2 linked regions of the Homo sapiens genome follow. The gene in region 2 interacts genetically with the main gene of each other region. Each region holds a gene or a part of one and is shown on either strand. Other genes may lie near its edges.

Region 1 (3,500 bases), on a different chromosome or scaffold from region 2:
ATTGGGTTTGGGGCACATCCAAATAGCTAAACAGGTAAAGACTCCTGGAGGGTGGGTGTTTGGGAGAGGGCATGGAAGCTACCCCTTCCCCACATCCCTTGCCCTGTGCATTGCTTCCATCTGGGTATTCACCTGGATCCTTTGTAATTAACGGGTAAGCATAAGTAAAGTGTTTCCCTGAGCTCTGTGAGCCACTCTATTGAGAATCAAACCAAGGAGGGGGTCTGAGGAACCCCAGTTTATAGCCAGTCAGTCAGAAGCACAGGTCACAGCCTGGGATTTGTGACTGACATCTGAGGGAATTTGGGGCAGCAGTCTTCTGGGACTGAGCCCTTAACCGTTAGATGGATCTCCAGGTGCATAGTGTCAGAATTGAATTGAATTAGAGGATGTCCAACTGGTGTGTGGCGGGAGAGTTGCTTGGTGTATGGGGAAAACTCCCATACATCTGGTGTCTGATGTGTGTTGTGAGACTGTAATAGAAGATAACAGTTTGTTATTTTCTGTTCTTTAGAGTACCCCATGCCAGTTGTGAAAAGGCAGGCATGAGCTAGTTTAGACTTAATACAGACAGACACTCCTGGAGTTTGTACATGGACCCTGTGCAGTTTTACTTTTTTTTTTTGAGATGGAGTTTCGCTCTTGTTGCCCAGGCTAGGGTGCAATGGCGTGATCTTGGCTCACCACAACCTCTGCCTCCTGGGTTCAAGCGATTCTCCTGCCTCAGCCTCCTGAGTAGCTTGGATTACAGGCATGCGCCACCATGCCTGGCTAATTTTGTATTTTTAGTAGAGACGGGGTTTCACCATGTTGGTCAGGCTGGTCTCGAAATTACAACCTCAGGTGATCCGCCCGCCTCGGCCTGGGATTACAGGCGTGAGCCACCACATTTGGCCCAGTTTTACTTTTTAATGTGGGCTGGTGACAAGCAGAAGCATCTGCCTGTATCTGGACTCTCCTCCCAAGAGTTGGTTCGGCACCAGGGCCCATGGTGAGCTCAGTCTTCTGTCTGCCGTCTGTTCTCTGCAGGAGGCCTGCGGCTCACTGACCAGCTGGTTCTCAAGGTCACGCCTGTTGTGTGCATGTAAGAGTGTTGTAGGTGCCTTTGCAGCGATTGCTGGCTGATGGGTGTCTGTCTTTGCCTTTTCTTCAGATTGGACGAGGCCTTGGCCCAGTACTTTGGGAATGGGACAGAGTTGGCCCAGCAAGAAGATATCTACCCAGCCATGCCAGAGCCCATCAGGAAGTGCCCACAGTGCAACAAGGACATGGTCCTTAAGACCAAGAAGAATGGCGGGTGAGTGCGCTGCCTTCTGCCCCCACCTCTGCTCCCCAGCACCTGCGGTGTCAGCCGTAGCTCGAAAGACCCTGCCATTTCACTCCATGGAATCTTTCAAGACAGGCCTGTTGTTGCCAACCTGCAGGCAAGGTGTTGGCCTAAAAGCATAGCAGGGTGGGATCAGGCCTTTGAGGTGTAAAGCACTATGGGAATTCAGAGCAGGTGAGAAACTGAATGATAGTGGGGTTTTTTTGTCCCCTGTGGATAGGACATCATATACCCAATGTGTAACACATGGAGGAGCATGAGCTTCAGATCTAGGTGGGTCTGGGTTCAAATGCCACTTATGCCGCATATAAGTGGTGTGGCCTGAAGCAAGTTACTTACCTGCTCTGAACCCCAATTTCTTCTTTTATAAAATGTCAGTACTTACAAGGCTGTGTTAAGGGTGAGGATTTGGTGAAAATGGTCAGGACTATATAGCACATTGCCTGATGTGTTGTAGATACTCAGCAGATACTACTTTTGTTCTCTCCTAGTTTTAGTTCTGAATGGGGCCTGAAAATCTCAACTCCCTTTTCGCTTTAAATATAGTAGATCTGAGTGGGCAATTTAGCTTCACATCAGGTTGTTGGAGCCAGTGGCTGGCCACTGGAGGAAGTTCACGGGGAAAGACGAGGTGGAGGGGTGGCAGCCATCATTCATCAGGTGCCGTCCCTCACTGGTGTAATGCAGGGTGGTGCTCTGTAAGCATTACCTCATCCCATTCTCCTAACTACCCTGCAAGGCAGGGATTTTTATGCAGCTTAGAGGGCTGAGGTGCTTGCTTGGAGTCAAGCAGCCGTGGTGGGCAGCAGAGTTTGAAACCGGGTTTTCACTGCCTTTTTCCATCCTGCCTGGCCCACCTGGGACTGCTGTGCTCCTTGCTGCTGAATAAGAAAGGAGGTTTCTCAACTCCTCACCTCCAGCCATCATTAACCTGGCTGGCCCAAGTGAAGAGAAGGCCACCCAGGCTCTCAGAAACAAGAGGTCTATGGGCCAGACCTGGAAGCAGGTGTCAGGGCTCGCGTCACTCACAGACAGAAGCCAGTGCCACTCTAGGCTTAGCCCAATGACTGGGCGTATATTTCAGCACTTAATAAATGCTGTCGATGGGTTTTCCTTGCTATCGGTAGGTTATTGGATTAGTACTCATTGGAATATAAGGAGAGAGAATAACTACTTTTGTTTTAGCTCTGAATTCTCCAATTCTCTGAATTGGAGAATTATTATTATTCTTTAGTTATTCGTTTGTTCTTCTGTTATTCTTTTGTAATGCTTCTCTGAGTTACTCCAGAAGGTCAGGAGATTATCTTGTGGGATTTGCCACTCCATGATTTATCTGTTAATTTCCATTTCTGAGATTGTAAATTTCTTATTTAAATGATTGGAGTTCGGGGCTTTTTTTTCCTTCATAGTGTACCCAGGCACACTCATGAGGAATTTGTAAATCACATGCATATTAGCTAGTCAAACCCTAACGTTTCATGACTGCAAGGTGTTGAAAAACATTGGCCAGGAGAGACCGGGATGGGATGGATGGGCAGTGGGTGGGGTGTAGATGTTGCAGGTGAGGCTTTGTCACAAACAGATGGGTTTCCATTCCTGGCTCCCATCCACACATGCATGCATGTCTCTGGGCAGGTTTCCAGGCCACACCAAGCCACTGTTTACTCACATGCAAACTGAGGGGGCCCCTGACACTGCCCAGACTTGGCACGAGGCAGAAAGGCAAGAATGTGTGAGTGCACAGCACAGAGCCCCTGGCGTCAGCTTGGTTGGTTGTTGGTTTTCTAAATAGAAAGCAGGGCCAGCAATAGCTGCTTTGTGCTTTTGGGATGTGAGAAGGCTCATTTTTCCCAATCAATTCAATATGAGTGCTTGTGTATCCAGTTAAGTGTCATCCAGAAAAGGGAATGTTGTCCTCGGGCAGCTGAGGAAAGGCTGCCTTAGCTGATGGCCAACAGCGGAGAGCATCTCCTGCACTCCTATCATCTGACATGGCACTTTGTCCCCAGGTTCTACCTCAGCTGCATGGGTTTCCCAGAGTGTCGCTCAGCTGTGTGGCTTCCTGACTCGGTGCTGGAGGCCAGCAGGGACAGCAGTGTGTGTCCAGTTTGTCAGCCACACCCTGTGTACAGGTGAGCTGGGCACCTGAGTCAGGTGCCTCCTCTGGAGTGTG
Region 2 (3,500 bases):
TCAGCCTCCCAAATAGCTGGGACTACAGGCATGTGCTACCACGCCTGGCTAATTTTTTTTGTATTTTTAGTAGAGATGGGGTTTCACCATGTGGGTCAGGCTGGTCTAGAACTCCTGACCTCAAATGATCTGCCCACCTCGGCCTCCCAAAGTGCTGGGATTACAGGCGTTGAGACACCGCGTCCTGCCAAAAAATTATGGTAATGTTTTATTGCACGTTTGGGTAGAAATGACAAAGTTTTTGGGGTCCCTGCCTTTGAGATGCTTTTACTTGTAGGTGGTGGAGACAATCAAACACAAATTGCACAAAGCTATAGGAGAGGGGGGATAGACCAATATTTATCTAAGACCGCACTGGATGTTAGATATTGTCAACTTATAGATGTGAATATATTTTTACATTTTTCACTAGGGAAATGTTGCTTTTGGACGTGTACATATAGAACTAATTGAAGTATTGAAGCCAAATCTGGGAAGGTTTCTTTTAGGAAGAAAAGAGCAAGTGGAGACACAATATTTAAGACTTTTGGAATTGAAAGGCATAAGGGACAGATAAAATTACGAAGCTGGTTTGAAGGGAATACAGATAGAGGTTGTTGAGTAGTGTTAGGGTCAGTTGTGTTTGTGTAGACACATGATTACAGTTCAAAGAAGCAACTGAGAAGAGTGTTCCTGAGAGTAATTTCAGATGACTGGGGAGAAATTACATTTTAGGTAAAAGCTGTATGCCTGGATTAGGATTTTGTTTTTCTAGGGAACCAACATTTTTATTATATCGTGGCTATCCAGGGCTATACAGAAGGAGGAGTGAAAAAGAAGATGCTTAGTGTGTTGAAAGTGGCTTCTTACAAAAAAGAGTTTAGAAATGGGACAGTAGACTTTGCTTTGGATGTGAAATTTTAGGGCAACAATTGGATACTGGTGCAGTTTCAAAACAGCAAAATAGTTTAGCAGGTAATATACTGAAAATGTAAAGTTGGAATTATTTTCAAAGTATTTAGGTTTCCCAGAGTACTGATGGAAAGTGAAGAGCTGAAAAGTGGGTATTTTTAGTTAGGGGGAAAATCTGAATGAATGAGACACTACCTAAAATAGATGTTTTAGAAGTGGATAAGAGTTGAAGTTAAAAAGGAATGAGCAGGCTTTAAACATGGCCACCAGTTTAGTCCCAGGGTATATTATTCTGTATTTTTGAAACAAGCTAAAATTTTTTTTTTTTTTTAAATAGGGTATATAGGTCCCTTGAGATTAAGTTCAGAAGAGTATACTTAATAATAATTTCATTGTTAAGGAATTTATAAATAGAAGGACAGATTTGTTTCCTCAAATTCATGTTTTAAAGTTCACTGTGCATTATTATCCTACGTTTGGTCTTGATATGACGAAGTGAGGCCAAAAATAGCTGACAGAGAAGGCTGCTTCCCTTGTTCACAGTTGGTGTGTGTCTTTGTGTCCCATACAATGGAGGGGATATCCCTGTGTAGGCACAGTAGTGCTGAACATGCTTTTTTTTTTTTTTTCCTTTTAAACTTTTTATTAAAAAAAAGCAACTTGGCATTTAAAAAAATGTAGACATTTTTGCGGCTTGCATTTAGTATTGACTTTAACAGGATTAAGGATTGTGAGGAAGGAAATATATATTCACACTTTTTTGTGTTCCTTAGTTGGAATTCTGCACCTTCCTAGTAGCTTCTCTGACTTCTTAACAGTGATTATTCAAATGGCAGAAACTCTGGGGAAGAGATGTTTCAACAAGGAGATAGGTCTAAGGTGATTCTAGGGTGAAAATATAGGGATTGGATTATATGCCATATGGAGGCCTTCTCTTGTCATCCTCCACTTTCCACAACATTTTTTGTGCAGTCGAAGCCATGTTCAGATGAATTTTAGAAGGCAGCCACTTATAGTTAATGTTATTTACTAGTGAGGACAGTGGGAAGAGTGGTAACTTCATGTACTTTGCCTTGGCAACTTTTGGATTGATAGGGAATTAGAGAGCCTTGAGGGTATATGTTTGTGTGTGTGTGTGTGTTTTAGCACCCACCAGATGACCCCAAAGGCCATGCATAGGCTCATTTCATTGTACTTTGGAGATGGTTCTTGGAGAAGTCTTCTGGTGCTTCTGACATCTCATTGTGTAGAGAAAGAGTTGGCAAACTATTTTTGTAAAGGGCCAGTTAGTAAATATTTTAGGTTTTACAGGCCACATGATCTGTCACAACTTTCAATTCTGTTCTTATAGTGTGAAAGCAGCTGTAGACAACAAGGAAGTGAATGAATGTTGCCGTGCTCCAATTGGCCCATAGGCCGAAGTTTTTGGACTCCTGGTATAGACAACTGCCAAATCCACCAACAAACAGTATGAGCTTTATTACACTACAAAGCCAGGACTGGCTATTTTTGGTGGTCTTTGTTTTCTAGATGAGATGTTTTTCTCTGAGTTCATTTAAAATGATTCTGCATAAAGCACATACTCTACTGTACAAAATACTTTTGCCTTCATGGTGATGAAAACTATGGATTGAGGGTCGGGGTGATACCATCTTTAAAGGGATGCAGCTAAAAAGTAGGGACTACCTGCATTTCTTATCTAAAGATAACCACAGTTGGCATTTAGTGATATACTGGCTTTGTATCATGGCCAAAAGTATCTGTAAAGAAGCTTGTGGGCATACTTTTGAAACCTTCTGAAAATAAATGTAAAGCATTTACTTCGTGTGTAAAATTAGAAGTGTCTATGGTTGGTTTGAATAATATGAGTCAAATTATAAGAGCATTAAAGTTTGATACTGCTATCTATTAAAGTCTTAATCTCTTGCAGTGGCTAATTCAGTGTGTAGAATTACACATCGCAATTTTTGTTTTGTTAATTTCAAGTACTAGTGTATATTAACAAATCACTTAAATCATTTAAATGTGTACTTTAAAAAGCTTTGATGTATATACATATATATACGTATATATATATATGTACACGTATATATATACACGTGTGTGTGTGTGTGTGTGTGTGTGTGTGTGTATTTTTTTTTTTTTTGTGACGGGGTCTCATTCTGTCACCCAGGCTGGAGTGCTGTGGTGTGATCTCAGCTCACTGCAACCTCCACCTCCTGGGCTCAAGTCATCCTCCTACCTCAGCCTCTCGAGTGGCTGGGATCACAGGCATGCGCCACCATGCCCGACTAATTTTTTTGTATTTTTGATAGAGATGGGTAACAACTTTTGGATTGATAGGGAATTAGAGAGCCTCGAGGGTATATGTGTGTGTGTTTTAGCACCCACCAGGTAACCCCAAAGGCCATGCATCATGTTGCCCAGGCTGGTCTCTTAACTCCTGAGCTCAGGTAATCCATCTACCTCGACCTCCCTCAGTGCTGGGATTGCAGGCGTGAGCCACCACACCTGGCCAGCATTGCTATATTTTTAAGAGTGAATCTTTCTCACATGTGTTGTTCAGAAAGTGTAATTCACTTTGTGCAATTTTACATTACAGTTAATAT

What was found. A genetic interaction does not mean that the proteins touch.
Region 1: changes in FBXW7 (region 2) and TOP3A together harm fitness more than expected from each alone (negative genetic interaction), as found in Homo sapiens cells (one large-scale study listed by BioGRID).

What each region holds. Positions count from the first base shown.
Region 1 is NC_000017.11:18,280,495-18,283,994, reverse strand, and holds part of TOP3A (DNA topoisomerase 3-alpha), read left to right. Parts: intron 1-1,153; coding exon 1,154-1,297; intron 1,298-3,336; coding exon 3,337-3,459; intron 3,460-3,500. UniProt on the Homo sapiens protein: Releases the supercoiling and torsional tension of DNA introduced during the DNA replication and transcription by transiently cleaving and rejoining one strand of the DNA duplex.
Region 2 is NC_000004.12:152,529,593-152,533,092, reverse strand, and holds part of FBXW7 (F-box/WD repeat-containing protein 7), read left to right. Parts: intron 1-2,242; exon of another isoform or gene 2,243-3,500. UniProt on the Homo sapiens protein: Substrate recognition component of a SCF (SKP1-CUL1-F-box protein) E3 ubiquitin-protein ligase complex which mediates the ubiquitination and subsequent proteasomal degradation of target proteins.